Linked DNA regions of Homo sapiens. The protein of the gene in region 3 purifies or fractionates together with the protein of the main gene of each other region. This does not show direct contact. Each region holds a gene or a part of one and is shown on either strand. Other genes may lie near its edges. The genes, in order: PPP2CA, CSNK1A1, BCL10, CAMK2G, QKI, BIRC2 and CASP8.

Region 1 (3,500 bases), on a different chromosome or scaffold from region 3:
ACACTTTTTTGAGACGAAGTCTCGCTCTGTTGCCCAGGCTGGAACGCAGTGGCGCGATCTTGGCTCACTGCAACCTCTGCCTCCCGGATTCATGCCATTCTCCTGCCTCAGCCTCCTGAGTAGCTGGGATTACAGGCAGGCGCCACCATGCTGGGCTAATTTTTGTATTTTTAGTAGAGAAGGGGTTTCACCATGTTGGTCAGGCTTGTCTCGAACTCCTGATCTCAGGTGATCCACCCGAGCCTTCCAAAGTACTGGGATTACAGGCATGAGCCACCGCGCCTGGCCCCCTTAAACTCTTAAACCTCACATTTAAACTATGTATTCAGGCTGGGCACTGTATCTTATACTTGTAACCCCAACACTCTAGGAGGCCAAGGTGAAAGGATCACTTCAGCCTAGGAGTTCGAGACAAGACTGGGCAATATAGTGACACCCTCTCTCTCAAAATAAATAAACCAAAACCCTACATATTCAGTAATGCAAGAAAATGTTCAGGTAGAATTACTTACAAAGAGTATTTTAGAGTATCGTCAAGTTCCATGATTGCAGCTTGGTTACCACAACGATAACAATAGTTTGGAGCACTGAAAATCGTTACTACATTCCGGTCATGGCACCAGTTATATCCCTGCAAGGAAAAGGAGACAAAAATCTTACTTTACTCCCTCAATTCAACTAAATGTTACTTCACTCAAGAGAGAAAAAAATCTCTACTCATTCCCACCCCTGCCAAAGGGGCTTAAGAAATGTTAATGCTTTTTTTCTGGATGACTTAATAATCTCCTGTACTTTATACAACCTGTAAGGTACACATGTATTTATTTTCCCCCTAATTACAAAACTTGTTTTTTTTTTAGTACTTTAAAAAAAAAAAGGCTTTAACAAACAGCAGCAACCACCAAAGAATGAAATACTTCTCATGTATCTGCCTTGCTGTAAATGACAATGTCTCATTAGCCTCTTCTCTTGCAGTGGCCTTAAAACATGATTTAAGAATAAGTATTTAAGTGGCCATTCCCTAGAGAAGTAGATACTTAATCCTGGAGACCAGAACCTTACCAATTTTGTCAGTCACAGGTAAAGGCCTGTTAAGTTGGTCACTGCCCAGGAACAAATGCAATATGCCTCTAGGATCTCCAGCCTCATTTCCTCAAAGTCCATCCACCTGAATGCATGAGCTACTTTTGTTACTTTTTGTTTAGTATTGTTCACAATTTCTTTACCTTTAGCAAAGTCAGATTTTATTGATAACCACAGAGTTGTACTAGTATTAATCTAATTAGGACCTTATTTTAAAAATATTCTAATCAGTGTGCCATGTCAAGAACCTTTGCCTCTTTCCCTTCTTTCAAATCACCTGTAATCCTAGCATCCAAAGGACCACTTAAAACATTTTCGTGTATTTCTTTCCAGTCTCTCCTACATACATACATTAAATATACGAAATAACATTGGGATCATAAAATATCATACATGCACACCAACTCCCTATATCTTACTTTCCCACTCTTAAATCTCAAGTACTTCCTAGTCATTCAGATTTCTCTGAAAACATGTTAATGGATTCATTGTAATCAAAAGCTTGAGCTTTTAATTCTAGTAGTGTGCATCTACTGAAAAGGCTCAGGCTATAATGATAAACTCATCAGAAGGAATAGATGGAATTTCTCACAAATGTCATTAATTTAAAACTCCCTAATATCTTCTTTCCTTAAGTTTACTAAAAAAACAAGTCATATTTCAGAGAACACAGCATACCTCCATCACTAGCTGGTGAGCTCTAGACACCAACGTGAGGCCATTGGCATGATTAAATGTCTCAGAAATATCTTGCCCAAAGGTGTAACCAGCTCCTCGAGGAGATATACCCCAACCACCACGGTCATCTGGATCTGACCACAGCAAGTCACACATTGGACCCTAAAAAATAACTTCAAGTTATAAAATGCCTTTTACAAACATGGTTAACACATTATTTGAGTAATTCATCAGAAGCAGCACCCTAAGCCACCCTTTTTGAGTGATGTTTGTGGACAATGCTAATAGACTGTGCAGTTGAAGTCAAACATCTGCATCAAATAAGATGTATTTTCCAGCAGACTTTATGAGACACAGCTGACATCCATGGGACCCAGCAGCAACATGCCCTAATTAATCTGCCTATATTATGCAAATTTCAGAGTCTAAGACAGACAACCCAGGTCCTAATAAGCCCAGCTTCACAGCTGTTGTGATCTTGGCAGGTTTCTTAATGTCAGCTTCTTTTGAACAACAGGGCAGACAAGAGTGCTCACACCTCAAGTTGTTTTTGAGAATTATATGAGAGAATACATCTAATGAACTTACAATTAAACTTCTCCACTCCCTAATAAGTTTTCTGAAAGAATTTTATCAAATAAAAGTCATACCTCATGGGGAACTTCTTGTAGGCGATCAAGTGCTCTGATATGATCCAGTGTATCTATAGATGGCGAGAGACCACCATGTAGACAGAAGATCTGAAAAGAGTGGTTTAAAAGGTTAACCTCACCTAAAAAATTTGTAAACATTCTTGGCTGGGCACAGTGGCTCATGCCTGTAACCCCAGCACTTTGGGAAGCTGAGGCAGGAGGGCTGCTTGAGGCCAGGAGTTTGAGACCAACCTGAGCAACACAGCAAGACCCTGTGTCTCTACAAAAATTTTAAAAAATGAGCTGGGCACCCCCATCACTTGGCCCCTCTGGTGTTTCTGTGCTCTGCCTGAATGAGACTTGACTTTGCAGGGTTCATCTTTGCTCCAGCCCACTCTGAACTATTGAGTACACTCCTGTTCTTCCTAATAGACCATCGCTGTCACAACCAGACTCCACTTCAAACAGCTCCTTTGAGAAAACTTCTTGGATATCACTCCTGCCCTTTGCCAGAGACTAGTATCTTCATACTCATAAAATTTTATTGTAAGTTCTTTTGTGTGCACATCTACCTAGGCCAATAATTAGCTCCTTACATCTCCCAGACTTGTCCAAAAACAGTCTGAGAGGGTAAATGGGCTACATCACCCACCCCTGTGATCCCACCATACAGTTCAGTGCCTGATATAAAGAATAATGCACTTAAAAAAGTTGGACACATTTGTCAAATTAAATTTTTTTTAAGTTTGAATGAATGCTATCAATATCTATTAAAAAATATCCCCAAAGGGGTGTTAAGAGTGGAAAGAGTCATAAGCACCTGAACACTAAAGAAAGCAGATTCTCTGAAATAATCAGCAATGAGTTTTAGATCCACATACCTGCCCATCCACCAAGGCAGTGAGAGGAAGATAGTCAAAAAGATCTGTAAAATATTTCCAAACATTTGCATTTCCATATTTTCTTAAACATTCATCATAGAAACCATAAACTTGTGTGATCTGTCTGCTCTCATGATTCCCTCGAAGAATGGTGATGCGTTCACGGTAACGAACCTAAAACAATAAAATGCAAAACATAAACAACTAGCTCTTTCAAAAACCAATG
Region 2 (3,500 bases), on a different chromosome or scaffold from region 3:
ACAAAAATATGAAAAGATTAGTGAAAAGAAGATGTCCACGCCTGTTGAAGTTTTATGTAAGGTAAGTATGCATGATGAATATTAAAAAAATATAAATGAAGCCAGGCACAATGGCTCACACCTGTAATCCCAGCACTTTGGGAGGCCAAGGCAGTAGGTCACATGAGCCCAGGAGTTCAAGACCAGCCTGGGCAACATAGGGAAACCCCATTTCTACCTTAATAGATAAATGATCCGGCTGGGCACAGTGGCTCAAGCCTGCAATCCCAGCACTTTAGAAGGCCGAGGTGGGCGGATCACTTGAGCCCAGAAGTTCCACAAGACCAGCCTGGGCAACATGGTGAAATACCTTATCTACCAAAAATACAAAAATTAGCTGGGTGCAGTGATACACGTCTGTGGTCCCAGCTACTCAGGAGCCTGAGGCAGGAGGATCACTTGAGCCCGGGAGGCTCCAATTGCAGTGGTGAATCTTGGCTGTCTTGCAAGGATCTGAGATTGTGCCACTGCACTCCAGCCTAGGTAACAGAGTAAGACTCTGTCTCAAATGAGTGAATGAATGAATGATCCAGGAAGAAAAAGGAACATTTTATTTGCCAGCTCTGGAACTTGTAACATTGAATTAGGTAGCTATTCACCATTTTAAATTTACATTTTTATTATTCTAAATATCTTTAACAAGGACTTTTAACATAGGGGTCTTTTTAAATAAGTGTTTTGCTAGGCACAGTGGCTCACAGTTGAGGAGCCACTTGGTAGGCTGAAGGAGGGTGGATCGCTTGAGCCCGGGAGTTCCAGACCAGTCTAGGCAACATGGTGAAACCCCATCGCTACAAAAAATGCAAAAATTAGCCTGGCATGGTGACGCATGCCTGTAATCTCAGCTTCTTGGGGATGCTGGGGCAGGATGCTTGAGCCCAGGAGGTCGAGGCTGCAGTGAGCCAAGATTGCACCACTGCAGTCCAGCTTGGGTGACAGAGTGAGACCCTGTCTCAACAACAACAAAAATAAGTAAAATAATAAAAAATAAGTTAAATAAACGTTTTAAGTAAGTAAAATAAGTGTTTTATGTTTCTGGTTTGTTAGGGCTCTCTAATCTGTTGAAAACTAGGGGTAAATAAACAGGGCAGGTAAACATTTTCAATAGAACCTCATTAATCTATAAGAAAAAGTAAGAAATATTCTCCTTACCCTAAACTAGTGCTGGAAAAGAAAGGTTATCAACAATTAGTACATTAAGGAACAGGGAAACATGCAGACAGATTGGAGCAATCCAAAATAGCAGCTGTCCAACAATACAGGAATACAGAAGACAGTTTGAATCACACTCATTTTTTCTGAAATTTTCAACTTCATAGAAAGGCAATTGAGTTTAGAATAGAGAGGTATTTGTGTCATGATGAATAACCATGATCTCATCCATAAAAAGAAGGCCATATGGTCTTTCAGACAAGAAAGAATTGTATACCTGAAATTAAGTACAAAGCAGTATACAAATAAATAGTTGAGGGAAGAAATCAGTGAGAGTTAAAATAGTAATTATAAAGTGGTGAGATTGTTTTCAGTCTCATTGTCATACTGTTTACCATTAACACGGGCCATAAATGTATATAAATGTTGAGTTTTAGAAAGATGTATAATATGTATTATTTTACATCTTTTAACATATGTATATGTTTCAAGTGGTCACCCAATTTATATCGGTGCAATCAATAAAAAATGTTGCAAGCATTTCCATTCTATCCTTCCTAACTCCAGGACATGAGAAATTTCTCATAAGGTTGTAGAAAGAGATTGTAACTTTAACTCTACAATCATAAGGTTGTAGAAAGAGACTGCCTCCTTTAACTTTACCACTCTCCACATTGGCATTTACTCTAGGAGAGGAGATATAGAGGTTTGTGCTCTTTTAATATTTTGTATTTCCACATTGCTGATTGGGGAAATCCTTTTGGTGACTGATACCTAGAGCCTTGAAAATGTTTATACATTGTTGAGAATCTTTCCTAAGGAGCTAAATGGAAAAATTCTATGCCCACAGATGTACTTAGCAGTATTATTAATAATAGAGAAAAATTAGAATACATCCAAATGTTCAATTATAAAGAACAAGTTAATGATGTATATACTAGGTAGAATATCATGCAACCATTTAGAAACTTCTGAAGGCTGGGCATGGTGGCTCACACCTGTAATCCCAGCACTGTGGGAGACCAAGGAGGCCAAGGGGGGCAGATCTCTTGAGCTCGGGAATTTGAGACCATCCTTGGCAATCTGACAAAACCCTGTCTCTACTAAAAAATACAAAAAATTAGCTGGGCGTGGTAGCTCGTGTCTGTAGTCCCAGCTACTCAGGAAGCTGAGGTTGGAGGATCGCTTGAAGCCTGGGAGGTGGAGGTTGCAGTAAGCTGAGATTACACTACTGCACTCCAGCCTGGGAGACAGATTGAGACCCTGTCTTTAAAAAAAAAAAAAGTTCACGAAGAGGCGCGACTTTGATAAAATGACAGGTTTTAACAAGTGGGCTATGTAAGTTATTTAAGAACATAGTACTGTATAGGAAAAGCACTATATGGGAAGAACATATGTATTTCTTCTACTAATATTGTACATAATAGGGTAGGTAGGGTCATGAAATTTTATTTAAATTTATGAGGAGACCAAGCCATCATTTTAGCTCTCATATCTTCCTATGAAATGGTAAAATATCCCGCCCAAAAATATCTTTTTGCTTATACTTAAATGCATTTATTTTTCTATCTTGAAATGTTTGTTTTTAACTTTGTTTTAACCCTTGAACCTATAGGGGTTTCCTGCAGAATTTGCGATGTACTTAAACTATTGTCGTGGGCTACGCTTTGAGGAAGCCCCAGATTACATGTATCTGAGGCAGCTATTCCGCATTCTTTTCAGGTCAGTTTTTAAGGTATTTTAAGATTATAAACTCTGTGAGGGAAATTGGTTAAATTTACCTAACAAATTCATTCTGATAAATACTAAAGTAAAGCAGATCTAGCTAACATGAATAAAAGGTTTCAGAAACTGATTTATTTGGGACTAATTTGGCATTTTTCTATTTGTAGTGTAAATAGGTGATTTTAGTTTGGAGTGGATAGAGAGTTGAATCATACTCAAAGTAGAATGTAACTTTTCCAGAATAGTTATAATTCATATTAGATATAAGTGGCTGTCAGTGCCTTCTGGAACTCTCCAACTTTGTACAGTACCAAATAAAAAGCAATTAAAATATCACATAGTCATGGAGTCTGATCAAGTGGTAGCAGTCCTAAACTAGGGTAGGGTTCCTTAGGCACAACCCAGAACTGGTCTTGAAAAAGGGGGGGGAATAGATTACATGTGGCTCAAACTCTTAGTTGGAAGAGAGTAAGAATTGAGGTAATCCGCCCAGGTACGGTGGCTCACGCCTGTAATCCCAGCACTTTGGGAGGCCGAGGCGGGCAGATCGCTTGAGGTCAGGAGTTAGAGACCAGCCTGCCCGA
Region 3 (3,500 bases):
AGGCCACGCTGGGTAGGTTGCTTGAGTCCAGGAGTTCAAGACCAGCCTGGCCAACATGGCAAAACACCGTCTCTACAAAAATAATACAAAAATTAGTGAGGCATGGTGGCACACACTTGTAGTCTCAGCTATATTACTTGAGAGGCTGAGGTGAGAGGATCACGTAAGCATGGGAGGCAGAAGTTGCAGTGAGCCTAGAATGCGCCACTGCACTCCAGCCTGGGCGATAGAGCAAGACTGTCTCAAAAAAAAAAAAAAAAAAAAAAGAAAAAAGGAAAAAATACCTCATCAAATTACATGTAATAACTGAGGTTTAGGCCAAGATATTTTTCTTTAGGAATGAAAATGATTAAGCCAAGAATGTGAAAATCCTAACAAAGTAGTATAATTAGTAAGGTTAATTAGAAATGAATTTTGGCAAACCGAGATCTTAGGTGGCTCACACTCCATCAAGTGTTCCTCCAGTATCAAAAAGAGGCTGTTTACATGCCTATACGACAATGGAGTGGAAAAGAGATTTTTATTTTTCTATATTGGCAGTTTTCCCATCAGTGACCGGTTTTATTACTGAACAGGAACAGCTTAATGCTGAAAATTTGCTGCTGAATGACTGGCAAAGACTATTAGACTCTTGAAAATTTCTAGCACAAATGCACTGAGGAAAAAACGTTCTTCCTAGTAAGGGTCTATTCTCAAATAGAGATATATTCCCTATTAAAATCAGTCTTAAAATAGAAAATATTTAAAAAAGTACTGAAAGACCTTAAAAAGGAAAAAAAGAAATTACTAAAAAGTACATGATCAACATGATTTACAGTTAGCTATCCTAGAAGTATGCTTTTTTAATTCTAAAAATCCTATTTACAAAGTATGCTTACATTGCATTTTAAAAGACATGCATCAAATGTAAACAAATGATTACAGCCATTTTATAAAAAGTCATATTCTTTAAAACATTTTTTGTCATCATTAAAAATTAAAAGGCAATAAAGTGTCATTGTCGTGAAACAGTACGTGATCTTAAGGGAAGAAACATCTCACTAGAGTTTGCACAAGTTCCTTCTTCTTCTAACTGTAGATCTGGTGGCAAAGGAGGAGCCCCTGGGTCCCCAGGTCTGGGAAGTGTAGTTGAAGAGAAGATGGTATTTTCAGTTCTGCCTACTTCTAGAACAGGCAAATTCAGAGAAGAATTAGTAGAAAAAAAGGGCGTCGTGCTGGATTCTCCTTCTGGATGGTACATGACAGTGGATGCCCTCAGTTTTTCAGAGAAATTACTCTCATCTGAATTTGATCTGGAGAGGTTGTTCGTGGCTCCATCTGGAAAAGGTTCACAACTGCTACATTTTAGTCCTACAATAAAATTATTCAGATGTAAATGAAAAAGTAACTAAAAAAATGGAGTCACTGTCCATCTTGTGACTTGTTAAAGATTACAAGCTAGTTACCCCACAATCAAAATTTAAATAGCAACTTGTAATTTCCGTCATAATCTATTTCAAATCTAATTTGCTTTTCTCAACAACCATGAAGTATACTATTATTTGCATTTTCTATATAACAAAATAGTCTCGTGGAAGTTAAACGACATGCTGTAATTCTCATTTAAGGTACAGCGTACATATAAACTTAACCACCTAAAATTTTTTATAAAATAAGAAATAGCTTTCACAATAAATATTCTTTAGTATTCTGGTACAAAAAATATTAGCTAATAAAAAAATGTAAACGGCAGATGCTAAAATTCTATCTGTTGATCAATGACAATGGCTAATTCTTGAATAATAGGATATTAGAACTAAAAGGAATTTTAGAGGTCACCTAGGATAGTCTCTTATTATTAAAGACGAGAAAAAAGGGCGGGGCATGGTGGCTCACGCCTGTAATCCCAGCACTTTGGGAGGCCGAAGTGGGCAGATCATGAGGTCAGGAGTTTGAGATCAGCCTGGCCAACATGGCGAAACCCCATCTCTACTAAAAATACAGAAATTAGCCAGGCGTGGTGGCAGGTGCCTGCAATCGCAGCTACTCAGGAGGCTGAAGTAGGAGAATCGCTTGAACCTGGGAGGCAGAGGTTGCAGTGAGCTGAGATCATGCCATTGCACTCCAGCCTGGGTGACAAGAGCAAGACTCCGTCTCAAAAAAAAAAAAAAAAAAAGAGAAAAAAAAGGCACAGGACAGTTAAGTCATGTCCAACATTCCAGGACTACTTTGTGGGAAAGTGAGAACTACAATTCAATAGATAATGTCCTGTTTCTCAACCTCACAGTTTACTCAAATGACAGTGGTTGTTCCCATTAGCTGTGGTACGAATGTATCCGCCAAAAGTTCACATGTTGGAAACTTGGTTGCCACTGCAGCAGTGTTAGGAGCTGAGGCCTTTGGGAGGCAACAGGGTCATGAGGGCTCTGCCCTGGACTAATGCCATTATCACGGGAATGGGTTAGTTATTTTGGGAGTTCGACTCCTTTTTCTTCTCTTTCACACTCTTGCCCTCCCTTGCTCTTCCATCTTCTGCCCTTCCACCATGCATGACCCTTGCCAGATGCTGGCGCCATGGTCTTGGACTTAACCAGCCTCCAGAACTGTAAGAAATGAATACATTTCTTTTCTTTAAAAGTTACCCAGTCTCAGGTATTGCTACAGCAGAAAACAACTTAGATACCATCAAAGAATTTTATGATATCCAAAGGGTATAGTTAACCATTATCCAGAGGATTGAAAGAATAAACACAAACACAATTTACCCTTCTGTTAGGCTTAGCAAATATTCAACCTACAGGCACAGAAACCCTGAGTTGACAATTTTTAGGCAAAACCTGCATAGTCTATAAAGGGCACTTACATGTCACTTCTTCCACTAGTTTTTCAACCTCACAGTACAGTCAGCATGTCTATTCCATGCTATACAAACTACTTTCTTAGATATGGCTCAAAAGGGAAAACTTGTAATGTGTCCCAGCAAGGGGACACTTATAGACTATGAGTTCCTTAAGGGCAGAGCCCTAAATTATTCTTTTCTGTATCCCTAATGCCTAGAAGAGCTGTAGAACATCACATGCACATTTATGTGCTCTGGAGAGAGACAGTGAGGAACAGAGGCAGGAGGGGGTTGGGGATTTAAATTGTGTAGGCAATTCCACACAATATTCCAATCAGTGAGTGTATATTCTGGAGTGAGAGTGAAATGGGACAGGTGAATCTGCTATTCTCTTAATCTGTTTCCATGCTTTCACATCTTGCCAGACTAGTTTAAAGTCATGAATATTTTATGCAACGTGATTCCTATAAACATATGCCAATTACTTCATCTTGTGATCAACTGGTGATCATAAGAAAAACTAGCAGAGTTGGACTTTTACAATACTTTGCCTAAATACTGTTCTTTATGTGTGATGTACAGTATTTTCAGAGCTTACTCTTGAATAGATTAACTTTACATTCTACTGACTTTAGAAACAAATCCTTATGTATGCAGGGATTTCATAATAGTTTTCTATAAA
Region 4 (3,500 bases), on a different chromosome or scaffold from region 3:
GGTGACATTTGATTAGGACCCAAAGTAGGTGAGACAGTGAGCCAGGCACATTATCTTGGGAAAGAGGTTCCTCACTTCTTTTGTTTGTTTTTTTTGCTTTTTTTTGAGATGGAGTCTTACTCTGTTGCCCAGGCTGGAGTGCAGTGGCATGATCTCGGCTCACTGCAAGCTCCGCCTCCCAGGTTCACGCCCTTCTCCTGCCTCAGCCTCCCGAGTAGCTGGGACTGCAGGCGCCCATCACCATGCCCGGCTAATTTTTTTGTATTTTTCAGTAGAGACGGGGTTTCACTGTGTTAGCCAGGATGGTCTCGATCTCCTGACCTTATGATCCGCCTGCCTCGGCCTCCCAAAGTGCTGGGATTACAGGCGTGAGCCACGGCACCCGGCCAAGAGGTTCCTCACTTCTAAAATAGAGACAGCAAGATCTGAGGTTTAACTGAGGTGGTACAGGTCAAGAGTTTTGCATAAGGTCTGGCATATAGCTCCTTTCCAAGGGCCCAGTGAGAAGCTTGACAGGGTCTCCTGGGCTGGGCTTGTGGCCACAGCTATCACCAGAGACACTGTGAATGGGACCCACTGTCCCCTCAGCCCAGGCAGATGCAGGGTCTGCAACACAGCAACTAAGCCCTCCTGCCTGGCTTCTGGGCTCCCCACATGGTCCTCCATTGCAGTCCTGGAGGTGGAGTGTCCCTCCCTGTTTTGGCGGGGCCCACCTGTGTCTACAGTCTGCAGGTGATGGGCAGCAACAGGGGCTCCTCAGAGAGAGGGGAACGCCGCAGGAAGTGCCACTGTCCGCTTCCCTCCTCTTCCTCGCAGCCGTGGCACCCTGCCATCCACAAGCTCTCCTCAATGAACAGAGCAGTTTCTACCTGCCCCGCTCTCCCCGTTCCTGCTGCCACATACTGCCCGGCCACCACCCAGCCTCTCCAGCTGTTGTCTCCTGTCTCTTCCCCTGACACTTCCTGTCCTGTAGTCACATCCAGGGCTGGCCCACGGCTGCAAAAAAGCAGAGGGTCCATCCCAGCAGCAGTGGCAGCAGAGGGGTTCCAGGATGGAGTAGTGGTTTCTAGAGCATCTTTCCCAAAAGCAAGGGCATCCCAGCTGGACGCAGCATCTCCAACCCCAAAAAGGGCGAGGCCACTGAATGGGCTTGGTCCACAGTGGGAGGGCCCTGGCTCGGCATCTCAAGGTGCTGCAAAGGTGTCTCCCCTTGAGACACCCCTCCTTCCAGTAACCACTAGGGAGAGGCTCAGACCTTCCAAGGTGGACCCTCCTCCACGCACCTTTCTACCAGGCTCATCCCCGCCCCTCCCACAGCCCAGCCCCCCCCTTCCTGTTTGACAACTGCCACTTCCCGCTTTTGCACAGGGCCACTTCCTGCCTGCCTGTGTGCTACTGCCATGGAGAGACCCACCCCTGCCGGCCTTCAGCCCAGCTCCAACCACAGCCCTCTGCAGGTTTTCCCCATCATTAGCAGAGGTGGCAACAGGAGCAGAAAGCAGAAGCAGCTCCAGCCTTTCCCCAGCAGCCTGCCTAGACCAGAGTGGTCTGAGCCCAGGCCAGAGCCAGGCCCTGGGAAACAAGGATCCTAGAAACCCAACCTCTCCCGCCTTCTGCCCAAGTGCTTCAGGACTTGGTCCAAGGTGCCACGATTTCACAGGAAGGGCAGCAAGAAGTGACCAGATGCACCAGGGGAGGCAGAAAAGAGGAAGCAGATAGGGAGGTGATAGCTTGCAGCCAAGGGGTGCACCAAGCCTGCCCCTGAACCACCTCCCCCTCTGGCCTGAAGACAGAAGCCTACTCCAATGCCCTTTCCTTCCTCTGCCAGGTCAGGGGGCCAGGGAGGGCTGGCCACAGATTCTCCATGGCCCTCTCAGGGATGGGCCTGCTTGACTTAGTGACATTTTCCTAAAAAAAAAACACAAATGCCAGCACTAGCTTCAAATAAGATCCTGCTGCCACGTAAACATACAATCCTCTGTACGTGGGAAAGGATGCACATTCCTACTCTGACTGAGGACTCTCCCAAGTTCCAATCTCAAAGACATTCTTAACTTTGTAAAGGGTATTTTGCAGGTCTGTGCCTATGACCCTAAACATGGATGTGAGAAACTTCCTGCAACCCCACTGATTTCAGGGCTCCATGGGAGGCGGCCTCACTTGCTGCCCTCCTGAGTGCCTTTCATCTTCTTCCCAAGCAGCAGAGGCCGCCGTCTGGTCCCCTTGGCACTCTGAGGAGCAGAAACAAGGACATCGCAGGGATTTGATGTCATAATCCACCTTCCCCAGCTGCTTATGCACAGCCCTGGGCCTGGGACACTGACCAGTGGGAATCCCAAGCCACGATCCCACCGACCTCACCCTGACACTGTGATGCCACATCCCTTCCTCTTTGAATCTCACTCTAAAGATGCAAAGAGTCTCCAATTAAAAGCAAAGTCCATCCGACACACAAGAGCAGGACCATGGTTTCTAATGCCCTCACACATGTACACCTGGTGACTAGCTGGGGGCTGTGATACAGAGGGACGGGGCCTGAAATGGTCCCATGTGAACCCCCAAGGCTCTGTGCATGTACCCAGCATCCTCCCCTTATCTTCAACCCTCACTCAAGCAGTTTTAACTTGGTGACACAAAGACCTGAGCCCCACTTTGGCCTCTGGATCTCAAGGCAAGGGAAGCGAGAGGCTCCAAGAAATGCCCTATAGCGAAAAGGCCCTCAATCAGCTTTGACAGAGAAAATCCCCAAGGGGTCACTAGCAAGCCCCAAGAAGGCAAGGCTCTGCCTGGGGGCACTCTGGCTGCTCTCAAGGGCCAGAAAAGGGTCAGCCGTCTGTTCTCCATGCCCCCCGGCAGGGCTCCCGGTGCCTGCAGCCTTTGCCCACTGTTTTGGTGACATTTCCTTCATGGTAACCAGCCCCAAGTAAAACATCCCAGGAAGCAGCCCCTAAAAATAGCTCCTCCCAGGGCAGCAGCAAGCAGGGGGGAAGGGAAAGAAAGGGAGGAGAAAAGAGGGGAGCAGATGGGAAGCTGCGGCTGCTGCTGATAGGGCCCAGGAAGCGGAGATGGTGTTGGGGAGGAGTGGCTGGAAATCTCCCCACCGCACAGCCCAGAGAGGTGGGTACAGACGGGAATGGGGCCTCAGCCAGCAACGAGGAGGGATTTGCTCCACCAGGCTTGGAGCTTGGGGCCTAGATGGAGAGGTGTGAGGTGATATGCCAAGATTCATCACAGGAACAAAGTATCCAGAACCTGTGTTTTAAAGAAAGGCGCCAAGGAGTGGGTGGAGGCCACACGGCCTGAGGACGCTGGGTCTGAGCCCTGGCAAAGTCATGGGCACCTGCAGCACAAAACCAAAAAAGAAAAAAAAGACCCCAGACAAAGCTTTTGTGCTTTGATTTCCCCAGCGGTCCTGCGGCAGATCTGTCTGGCCATGGGTAGGTGACAAAGGGGCTCTGCAGAGAGGCATTCAAGAGGTGCAAAGTGCCCATCTCCTCCTG
Region 5 (3,500 bases), on a different chromosome or scaffold from region 3:
CAAGATTCAATCATTTATTTTTCAATTTACTATGTTATTGCTATGTGCTGGGCTCTATGCTAAACACTAGAAATAAAAATGGTAAGCAAGACAAGAGATTACAGGTGACTGGGTAAATAGAAAATTTAAAAGACGCTAACAATATCCAGTTGATCCTCAAACAACAAGGGAGGGCTCGGTTGTCAGGGACACAGACTGCATCAAAGATCCTTGTGTAACTTTCAACTCTCCCAAAATGTGACGAATAGCCCACTGTCGTCTGGAAGCCTGACAGTTGATCAACATATATTTTGTATGTTTTATATGTTATATACCGTATTCTTACAATAAAGTAAGCTACAGAAAAGAAAATGTTATTAAAGCAGTAAAAGTCGATGTTAAATAACTTTTTCTGATCATGACACTAATTGCCCAGTATACTTTCGAAAATCTCCTTTTCTATACAGTTTTTCAATACCACACAATTAAGGAAAATGAGAAAGATTCCATGGTTTAATAGTACACAAATATAGATTTTAGTTTATATTTAACCTGATCATTAAAAAAAATAAAATCTACCAACAGAATTTACATAAAACTCTTTTATTCCAAGGAATTAATTTCATCAAGTTAATGGGAAATGTTTATGATTTGTGAGTTTACTTGTTGAATAAACTATCAGGGTAATAAAGAATAGGCTATCTGGGAAATAAAAAGCAGCAGGAACCATAACTCATTTATGTAAATGCCAATGCTTTTTGTTGGACACAATACTAACAGTATTCCTAGTTTTTTCTTTTCTTTTTTGAGACAGGGTCTCACTCTGTCACCCAGGCTGGAGTATAGTGGCGCAATCTCAGCTCACTGCAACCTCTGCCTCCCAGGCTCAGGCGATTCTCATGCCTCAGCCTCCCAAGTAGCTGGGATTACAGGTGCCTGCCATCACGCCCGACTTATTTTTTGTATTTTTAGTAGAGATGGGGTTTCACCATGTTGGCCAGGCTGGGCTCAAACTCCTGACCTCAGGTGATCCAACCGCCTCAGCCTCCCAAAGTGCTGGGATTACAGGCATGAGCCACCGCACCCAGCCCTAGTTTTTCCAATAGCAAATTAGGGTCCACATTTCCATATAGTTTTACTAATATAAGAAAAAAAAATTAATGGCCCAGAAAACCAGTAATTTATTTTTCATTTCCCGTTAAAAAAAAAAAAATTATACTCTGGGAGTAGTACAATTATTATTTCTAAAAATATTAAAGGGTTAAGAAACAATAAGGAGCCAACCCAAGGAAGGGGGGCAGAGGGAAGAGATGGGGGAAGAGATGGGGAAAGAGAAACCGGGAAGGAAGGAGAACTGATAACACAAAAGCATCTGGATAATTTCTTACGCGACGTCACCCTCCAAAACCCCTTTTAATGTCTATCTAAGGACCCCTAAATACGAACTTTATGTTTTTATTATGTTAGAAGTATCAGTCAGGTGTTTTTAATTTTATGCTTAAATAAAATTTCTAACAACCAATAACCTATTCCTTATAAACATTACGATAATTTAAAATAAACTGACAAAAAAGGACGAGGCCCAAATCTAAGGTCTGGAAATTATTACTTACTGCAGGTACCAATAATTTCTTCACTTCTTCAACTGCTCTCTTCAATTTGATTTCTGCTCTGTTCTGAGCATCTTCCACAGTGATTAGTACATGTAAATCTTCATTTAGATGCTCCCAATTGGGCTTGCCTCTATTTTGCTCCTCCTAAAAAATTTACAGAGTACATGATTAAAATTATTCTCTTTAAAGAGAGAGCACATCTTTCATAATACTAACCTGTTGTCAATTATTTCAGCTATGTTTGCATTATTTTGCTATGATGGCACAAGTCTTTGAATTATTTTTCTGGGTCCTCAAAGTTTGATTGAATGTGAGACTACTGGGTCAAATGATAATTAATCCAACAAGTATTTACTGAGCACTTACTATCTACCAGGCACAGAACCAGATGCTAAAGATCAGCCCCAAGCGTGCTCCTATGCACTAGAAGCATACATCATCATCATGTATGTAGTATCATACAACATACATCTGATACTGTCCTTACATTACCATGAAAAACACTTTGAGAAACATGTCATTATTTCTGCATTTTACTTATAAGTAAACAGAAGGTCATCAAGGTTAAGGGGGTCACCTCTCAATGTCACACAGCTAACAGGCTGTCAATTTAGGAACTGAATCAAAGTTTTCATTCTCTAATTCAGTGATCTTTCCACTTCATTACAACTGCTTTTAATGACATTGGTTGTATTCAGCATTAGAAAAGGTATTTTGCATATAGATGTTATTGTGTAAGATGACTACCACTTGTTTTAAGTATTTCATGCGGTAATTATGAAAATAGTTTTATCTACATTCCCATCAGACCATACCTTAAAATTAACTGTAAGGCTACTCTTTAATTATATCAAGTCATAAATACTAGTTTCATAGAGAATATCTATATTTCATTTCCTTAATGTCTTCTAGTAAGAAATATCCCCATGTTGAAAACCTGGTTAAGCTACAGGGAGGTTAAGTAGAGTTGGCATAATTTCAGAATCGCTGTTTTAAGTTTTAGAGAAAGTGTTTTTAAATAAAATAAGAATATATAAGTAGTATATAAATGGTAAATATAAATGCACCTGGCACACAGCAAGGTACCACAGACAAACAATAAATATCTGCTGTTTTTGGACCTTTATTTTAGAAGTTACTATTTACCTAATTGTTAGATTCCAGTAAAAGAAAATAAAGCAGGCATAATAAAACTGCTTTCTGCAACAATTCACATGATTGAGCTTAGCCAATAAGGCTAAAAATAAATTTTAACAGTAAATGCTTCTGCTTTATTTTTAATCAACACATCTTTAGGATGAAAATGCATCCACATATTGTAAGGGGATACAGGGAAAAAAAAAATCAGACACAATCCTATGCTGGGCCATCTATGTATTTCCAAAGAGTGAACTCTGAGTCAGCACAGCATTTTACAGGGGTACCATCTGTCCGACACTGTGTGAACCACCAGCTCAGAATATCTGACTGTTTCAACATAAGGTCACATTACATTCTTTTTGATGATGTCATATCTTTACAAAGCTAGGTTGTTAGCGGTTGCTGTAATAAAAATCAAGAACATACAAAAATCAATGTGGAACAAGAAAAGAGGGTGGCAGTACAAAAATCTGATTCCAAAGTTTGAGAATTTGAACAGCACCCAAGAAAATACAAATGCTATTAGTAAAAATGTGGTTATTTACAAATAAAATGTATAGTCTGTTTCAAAGTTGTTTGTAGAGTAAATATTTAATAAACAGAACTCTGAAATATTTCTTTTTGACTAGGGTACACCATGCAAACTAAGTGGGAAACCAAGGAGTCAATGAATCAAGAAACTGGAAACCTCAGGGTTATCTGTATGGCAAGAAATAAAATATGTATTAATATCTCTAACTGTGGCAAGAAAAATTAGTTTTGTTATCC
Region 6 (3,500 bases), on a different chromosome or scaffold from region 3:
CAAGAAACAGAAAGAAAAAAAAAAAAAGAAACGTGACATTAGCAAAGAAACTCAGTAATTTTCCAGTAATCACCCACAAAGAAATGGAGATCTATGAACTAACAGATAAAGAATTCAAAATAATTGTTTCAAGCAAACTCAGTGAGCTACAAAAGAACACAGATAATGAAATAAAAAAATATATACAAACAAATGAGAAATTCAACACAGAGATAGGAATAATAAAAAGAAACAAATTCGGGAGCTGAAGAACATAACAACAAAAAATGCAATAGAGAGCATCAATAGCAGACCTGATCAAGCAGAAGAACCTGTGAACTCAAAGGCAGATCATGTGAAATTATCTAGTCAGAGGAGAAAAAAAGAAAAAAAAAAGAATAGTGGAGAAAGCCTACCTGAATTATAGGACACCATCAAGCAAAACAATATTTGCATTTTAAGAATTCAAGGCCAGGCACGATGGCTCACACCTGTAATCCAGCACTTTGGGAGGTTGAGGCGGGTGGATCACATGAAGTCAGGGGTTCAAGACCAGCCTGGCCAACATGGCAAAACCCCGTCTCTACTAAAAATACAAAAATTAGCTGGGCATGGTGGTGCACACCTGTAGTCCCAGCTACGTGGGAGGCTGAGGCAGGAGAATCACTTGAACCTGGGAGGTGGAGGTTGCAGTGAGCTGAGATCATGCCACTGCACTCCAGCCTGGGTGACAGAACAAGACACCATCAAAAAAAAAAACCCAAGAAAATGAAAAACAAACCCGAGAATTCAAGAAGGAAAAGAGAGAAAGGACAGAAAGCTGATTTAAAAAAAAAATGCTGAAAACTTCATAAATCTAGGGAAAGATATCCAGGTACAGGAAGTTCATAGGACCCCATAAAGATTCAACCCAAAGAAGACTTCACTGACACACATTATAATGAACTGGCAAAAATAGAAGATGAAAGAGAATTTTAAAACTGTAACAGAAAAGAAACTCATCTTCTACAAGAGAAACCCTATAAGACCACAAGTGGATTTCTCTGCAAAAACCTTGTAGGCCAGGAGAGAGTTGGATGATATATTCAAAGTGCTGAAAGACAAAACTACCAGACAAGAATATGTATCCCAGCAAAGCTGTCCTTCAGAAATGAAAGAGATATAAACAGTCCCAGACAAACAAAAGCTGAGGGAGTTTATCACCACTGGACGCGCCTTACAAGAAACGCTGAAGAGTTCTCCAAGCTGAAATGAAAGGACACTAATTAGCAACATGGAAACATATGAAAGTATGAAACTCACTGTTAAGATAAATATATAATCAAATTAATAATATACTAAATTTGTAATGGTCATGTGTAAATTACTTAATTCTAAAATACAGGTTTTTAAAAAAAAGTATTAAAAATAACTATAGCTTCAATAATTTTTTCATGAATACACAATATAAAATGCAAATAATGACATCAAAAACATAAAATATGTGCAGGAGGGTCTGAGTAACAGTACAGTTTTTTAATGCAATTGAAATTAAGTTGTTAGTGCTTGAAACAGACTACTATAACTATAAGATGTTCTATGTAAACCTCATGATAGCCACAAAGTAGAAACCAATAGTAGATGCACAAAAGATATAAAGGAATCAAAGCATACCACCACAGAAAATCATCTAAACACAAGGGAAGACAGCAAGAGAGGAAGAAACAAATAATCTGCCAAACAATCAGAAAACAATTACAAAATGACAGAAGTCTTTACCCATCAATAGTTACCTTGAATGTAAATGGGCCAAATTCTCCTATCAAAAGATAAAGAGCAGCTGAATGGATAAAGAAAACAAGATTCAGCTACAGGTTGTCTACAAGAGACTCAATTCACCTTTAAGCACATGCATGGGTATAGGAAAAAAGATATTCCATGCAAATGGAAACCAAAAGAGAGCAGAGGAAGCTAAAGTTTTATCAGATAGGGCAGACTTTACATCAAAAACTGTAAAAAGAGTCAGAGAAAGTAATTATATAATGAGAAAGGGGCCAATTCCACAAGAGGATACAGTATCTGTAAATATATATATGTACCCAACATCAGACCACCTAAATAAACAGAGAAAATATTAACAGATCTGAAGACATTAATAGATAGTAACACAATAATACTAGAAGACTTCAAAAATCCTACTTTCAATAATGGATGGGTCATCCAGACAGAAAATCAGTAAGGAAATATTGGACTTCAACTATACACTGGATCTAATGGATCTAACATACAGGTTGAATATTCCTTATCTGAAATGCTTGGGACTAGAAGTGTTTTGAATTTTACATTTTTTAGATTTGGGAATACCTGCCTTATGTTTACCAGCTGAGCATCCCTAATCCAAAAATGCAAAACCAAAAATGTTCCAAAGAGCATTTCCTTTCAGCATCATGTTGGTACTCAAAAAGTTTTAAATTTTGGAACATTTTGGATTTTGGATTTTTGGATTGGGGATACTCAACCTTTATACAGAACATTCCATCAAACAGCAGATAATACACATTCTTCTTAAGCACACAAGAAAAATTATCCAGCGTAGATCATGCAGCAGGTCACAAAACAAGACTCAACAAACTGAGGAAGACTGAAATCCTATCAAGTATCTTTTCAGACCACAATGGTATGTAACCAGAAATCAATAACAGAATGAAAGTTGGAAAGCTGACAACTATGTGGAAATTGAACAAAATACTCCTGAATAATCAATGGGTCAAAGAAGAAATCAAAAAGAAAATTTTAAAAAATCACAAGAAATATTAAAATTGAAATGCGACATAGCAAAATGTATAGAACAAATGCAGTTCTAAAAGGAAAGTTTATAGCAATAATCGCCTATATTTAAAAAAAATCTTAAATAAACACCGTAATTTTACATCTAAAGGAACTAGAAAAAGTTAGCAGAAGGAAATAACAAAATCTCATGAAATAGAGACTACAAAAACAATAGAAAAGACCACTAAAACTAAGAGCTGGATTTTGAAAAGATAAGTAAAATCAACAAAGCTTTAGTTTGACTAGTAAAAAGGAAGACGAAAATAAATAAAATCAAAACCAAGAGATGTTACCATTGATAACACAGAAACGCAAATGACCATAAGAGACTACCATGAACAATTATTCACCAAAAAACTGTATAACCTAGAAGAAATGGATGCATTCCTAGAAACTTGTAATTTATCAAGACTAAAATAAAGAAGAAATAGAAGATCTGAAAAGACTTATAACTAGTAAGGAGATTGAATCAGTAGTCATAACTCTTCTGACAAAGAAAAAGCCCAGGAACAGATGACCTCATAGCACAGTTCTATCAAGAAGAAGAAAGAAGAAGAAAGGAAGAGGAGGAGAAGAAGGAAGAGGAGGAGGAGGAGGAAAGAAGGAGGAAGAAGAAAGAAAAGGGAGGAGGAGGAAGAAGGAAGAAGAGGGAGGGAAGAGGGAGTAAGGAGGGAGGAGGGGGGAATACTTCCAAACTCATTTTATGAAGCCAA
Region 7 (3,500 bases), on a different chromosome or scaffold from region 3:
ATCACTTGGGAGGCTTTGGGAAGATGTCCCACCGGAGCCAGATTAAGAAATTTAGGGGCCTTATATATAATTCTATAGAAATGCTAAGACCATAAAATAAAAATTTATTTTTCAAAGTGAAACATTACTTAGAGGTATGCTGAAGTTATAATAGAGTTTTTCTAAGTGTTCTCATTTTTTTCCTCTCTTATCTTGATGCCTCTCGATATCCAGATTGTGTGCTTACTTTGCCCATCCATTGAGTAAAGCATCATGGCTTCCCACCCTGAAATCCCCCTCCCACCTGCTTGCGGATGGCTATGAAAATTTTCAATGAGATTTAAGGGTTTTCTGCCACACTTAAAGACTCGAATGACTAAGTTCTTTACGGAGCTGTAAGCCGCTGGCCTGGCACATACAGCTAGGCAGTCTCCACCGAGGCTGCCCAGTTCCTGTGAGCCCGGCTGTATGACAGTTCTAAGCTTCTATAGGAAGACAGTGGCACGTTGGGTCATCCTGCCAAAGGCTGTAAAACTCAGCTTCTCCCCACCCTAGGGAGAGTGGGTAACCAAAGGTGTGAGAGAGAAACCCCATTCAGTTACAACTTCATGATGCTGTGACAAGACTTTAAAAACAGAAACACATTGTCACTTTCTCTCTTTCAACATCTCCTATTATCGGACACTACTTAAAGCAATTTTAGCTTTGCTTTCAGGAAACTTCTACTGAAGTCTTCGTTCTGGGCCCATTTCATTGTCTCTGTTTGCTTGTTGATAACTATGGCATGTGAGATGGAAAGGGTTCACAACCAGGGCTGACAGCTGCTGTCCTCTGATGGCTCAGCCCATGAATGCTCTGGTCTTTCTATTCTCAGAGACTATTTTTTGTTTTGAGGCTTGACTATTTTTTGTTTTGTTTTGTTTTGTTTTTGAGACGGAGTCTCGCTTCATCACCCAGGCTAGAGTGCAGTGGCATGATCTCGGCTCACTGCAACATCTACCTCCAGGGTTCAAGTGATTCTTCTGCCTCAGCCTCCTGAGTAGCTGGGATTACAGGTGTGTGCCACCATGCCCAGCTAATTTTGTATTTTTAGTAGGACGGAGTTCCACCATGTTGGCCAGGCTGGTCTCGAACTCCTGACCTTAAGTTATCCACCAGCCTTGACCTCTCAAAGTGCTGGGATTATAGGTGTGAGCCACCATGCCCAGCCAAGGCTTGACCATTTTGATTTTAAGTGAAAAAAGAGATATTCTGGGCCGGGTGAGGTGGCTCACGCCTGTAATCCCAGCACTTTGGGATGCTGAGGAGAGCTGATCACCTGAGGTCAGGAGTTCAAGACTAGCCTGGCCAACATGGTGAAACCTCATCTCTACTAAAAATACAAAAATTAGCTGGGTGTGGCGGCTCACGCCTGTAATCCCAGCTACTTGGGAGGCTGAGGCAGGAGAATTGCTTGAACCCAGGAGGTGGAGGTTGCAGTAAGCTGAGATTATGCCATTGCACTCCAGCCTGGGCAACAAGAGTGAAACTCTGTCTCAAAAAAAAAAAGAAAGAGATATTCTGGGTATATAAGTTTCCTAGGGCTGCTGTAACAAAGTAACACAAACTAGCAGGTTTAAAACAGTTTTTAAAATGTGTTTTCACAGTTCTGGAGGCCTGAGTCAGAAGTCAAGATGCCAACAGTGTTGGTTCCCTTTTAAGAGGCTCCGAGGAATAATCTTTTTCATGCCTTTCCCTGCTTCGGGTGGGTGGAGGAATCCTCAGTGCTCCTTGTCTTGTAGATGAGGCACAGCAGTCTCTGCCTATGTTCCCTTCTCTGTGTCTAAATCTCCCTCTTATGAGACAGTCACTGGATTAGGAATTAGGGCCCACCTAATCCAGTATGGCCTCATCTTTGTGTGTGTGTGTGTGTGTGTGTGTGTGTGTGTGTGTGTGTGTGTGTGAGACAGTGTCTCACTACATCGCCCAAGCTGGAGTGCAGTGGCATGATCTCGGCTCAGTGCAACCTCCACCTCCTGGGTTCAAGCAATCCTCCCACCTCAGCCTCCCAAGTAGCTGGGACTACAGGCACCCGCCACCATGTCTGGCTAATTTTTGTATTTTTTTGTAGAGATGGAGTTTCAAAATGTTGCCCAGGCTAGTCTTGAACTCCTGGGCTCATGCAATCTGCCCACCTCAGCCTCCCAAGTTCTGGGATTACGGGCATGAGCCACTGCGCCTGGCCAGCATGACCTCATCTTAATGAGATTTTATCTGCAAACGTCCTGGGTCCACATAAGGTCGCATTCTCATATTCCAGATAGACATGAATTTTGGGGAAGAGGGGAGAACACTATTCAACCAGTACACTAGATAGCTTTGGTTTACTAGCATTGTGAAGTCTTTATAAGGCACTTATTCATTAAGGCGCCAGTTAGTCCTAAAAACCCACAGCCCCAGAACAAGGAAAGCCGAGGGGGGTCTCATCTTGTGCCCACCATCTTGGTCCTTTGAAGGTTCCACTTCTGCCGCATGAGCTGGGCTGAAGCAAACAGCCAGTGCCAGACACAGTCTGTACCTTTCTGGCGGAGGGTCGATCATCTATTAATAAGGCAGGATCTCTCTTAAAATCTTTAATGTATTGGCTTAGAGATAAAAGGGTCCGGGCAATCCTGACTTACTGCTTGTTCATTATCATTGAATACTAGCCAGAAGCTAATAAATATGCTAGGGTGACCACTTACCATTATAAGAAAACACTAGACATTTTATTTTCCAGTTATAATTGCTACCTATAAAATAAAGATCTTATAAACTATTCAGGTTCATTACTAAATGGTGATGGTACAAGAAAGCCTATAGGCTTCAATAATGAGGAAAGCAAAAGGGTAAATACCTTGTAATAAAGGTGAAAGAGTCAGAGTAGCTTTGGATTAGATCCAATTTTGGCCAAACTGAAAGCTTTAGATAAACACTTCTAGGGTAGAGAGTCCATGAGAAGGGGGATAAGGCAGATGGTAATACTGAGTAATTTCTGTTTCTACGCCATTTTTATTTTCAGAATTTTACTTTTCTAATTAAATTTTAAAGTCAACGTGTTTTTGTATTAAAATTATTTTCCTTTACACCATAGTATTGAAAGGTTTGCTGACTTCTAAAACATTCCTTTGTTCACCTATTCGACAAGCATATTCCAAGAGCCTAAATGTGCCAATCACATAAATGTGATAGGCATAGATTAGGAAATAGTAACACCTATCACTCATTGAGCACTTAGTGTGTTGCCAAAGACTGATTTAAGTACTTCACATAAACTTATTTGTGTAACCCTCGAAACCTTCCTATGATGTGGTTACGGATAATTATCTTCAGTCTATGGACGAGGAAAAAATGTGTAACATGTCTAAAGTTAACACTGCTCAAAGATAGTGGAACCAAGGCTCCAACACCAATAGCCTGGGTCCGCTGAGCTCAATCATTGCACCTCACAACCCTCTGGGTTTATGAAAATAAAAAGGGTACGGACCTGGCCACTAGGGGAC

Evidence for each region.
Region 1: the proteins of BCL10 (region 3) and PPP2CA purify together in Homo sapiens (affinity purification with western blotting, with the first as the bait; one study listed by BioGRID). This does not show direct contact.
Region 2: the proteins of BCL10 (region 3) and CSNK1A1 purify together in Homo sapiens (affinity purification with western blotting; 4 studies listed by BioGRID and IntAct, with this or other methods). This does not show direct contact.
Region 4: the proteins of BCL10 (region 3) and CAMK2G purify together in Homo sapiens (affinity purification with western blotting, with the first as the bait; one study listed by BioGRID). This does not show direct contact.
Region 5: the proteins of BCL10 (region 3) and QKI purify together in Homo sapiens (co-immunoprecipitation; one study listed by IntAct). This does not show direct contact.
Region 6: the proteins of BCL10 (region 3) and BIRC2 purify together in Homo sapiens (affinity purification with western blotting; 3 studies listed by BioGRID and IntAct, with this or other methods). This does not show direct contact.
Region 7: the proteins of BCL10 (region 3) and CASP8 purify together in Homo sapiens (co-immunoprecipitation; one study listed by IntAct). This does not show direct contact.

Annotation. Positions count from the first base shown.
Region 1 is NC_000005.10:134,198,574-134,202,073, forward strand, and holds part of PPP2CA (serine/threonine-protein phosphatase 2A catalytic subunit alpha isoform), read right to left. Parts: intron 3,449-3,500; coding exon 3,275-3,448; intron 2,502-3,274; coding exon 2,412-2,501; intron 1,935-2,411; exon of another isoform or gene 1,924-1,934; coding exon 1,762-1,923; intron 632-1,761; coding exon 513-631; intron 1-512. UniProt on the Homo sapiens protein: Catalytic subunit of protein phosphatase 2A (PP2A), a serine/threonine phosphatase involved in the regulation of a wide variety of enzymes, signal transduction pathways, and cellular events.
Region 2 is NC_000005.10:149,506,440-149,509,939, reverse strand, and holds part of CSNK1A1 (casein kinase I isoform alpha), read left to right. Parts: coding exon 1-61; intron 62-2,806; coding exon 2,807-2,913; intron 2,914-3,500.
Region 3 is NC_000001.11:85,266,633-85,270,132, forward strand, and holds part of BCL10 (B-cell lymphoma/leukemia 10), read right to left. Parts: intron 1,351-3,500; coding exon 995-1,350; 3' UTR 1-994. UniProt on the Homo sapiens protein: Plays a key role in both adaptive and innate immune signaling by bridging CARD domain-containing proteins to immune activation.
Region 4 is NC_000010.11:73,864,556-73,868,055, forward strand, and holds part of CAMK2G (calcium/calmodulin-dependent protein kinase type II subunit gamma), read right to left. Parts: intron 1-3,500.
Region 5 is NC_000006.12:163,533,218-163,536,717, reverse strand, and holds part of QKI (KH domain-containing RNA-binding protein QKI), read right to left. Parts: intron 1,737-3,500; coding exon 1,593-1,736; intron 1-1,592. UniProt on the Homo sapiens protein: RNA reader protein, which recognizes and binds specific RNAs, thereby regulating RNA metabolic processes, such as pre-mRNA splicing, circular RNA (circRNA) formation, mRNA export, mRNA stability and/or translation.
Region 6 is NC_000011.10:102,357,214-102,360,713, reverse strand, and holds part of BIRC2 (baculoviral IAP repeat-containing protein 2), read right to left. Parts: intron 1-3,500. UniProt on the Homo sapiens protein: Multi-functional protein which regulates not only caspases and apoptosis, but also modulates inflammatory signaling and immunity, mitogenic kinase signaling, and cell proliferation, as well as cell invasion and metastasis.
Region 7 is NC_000002.12:201,267,036-201,270,535, forward strand, and holds part of CASP8 (caspase-8 isoform 2 precursor), read left to right. Parts: intron 1-2,474; coding exon of another isoform or gene 2,475-2,570; intron 2,571-3,500. UniProt on the Homo sapiens protein: Thiol protease that plays a key role in programmed cell death by acting as a molecular switch for apoptosis, necroptosis and pyroptosis, and is required to prevent tissue damage during embryonic development and adulthood.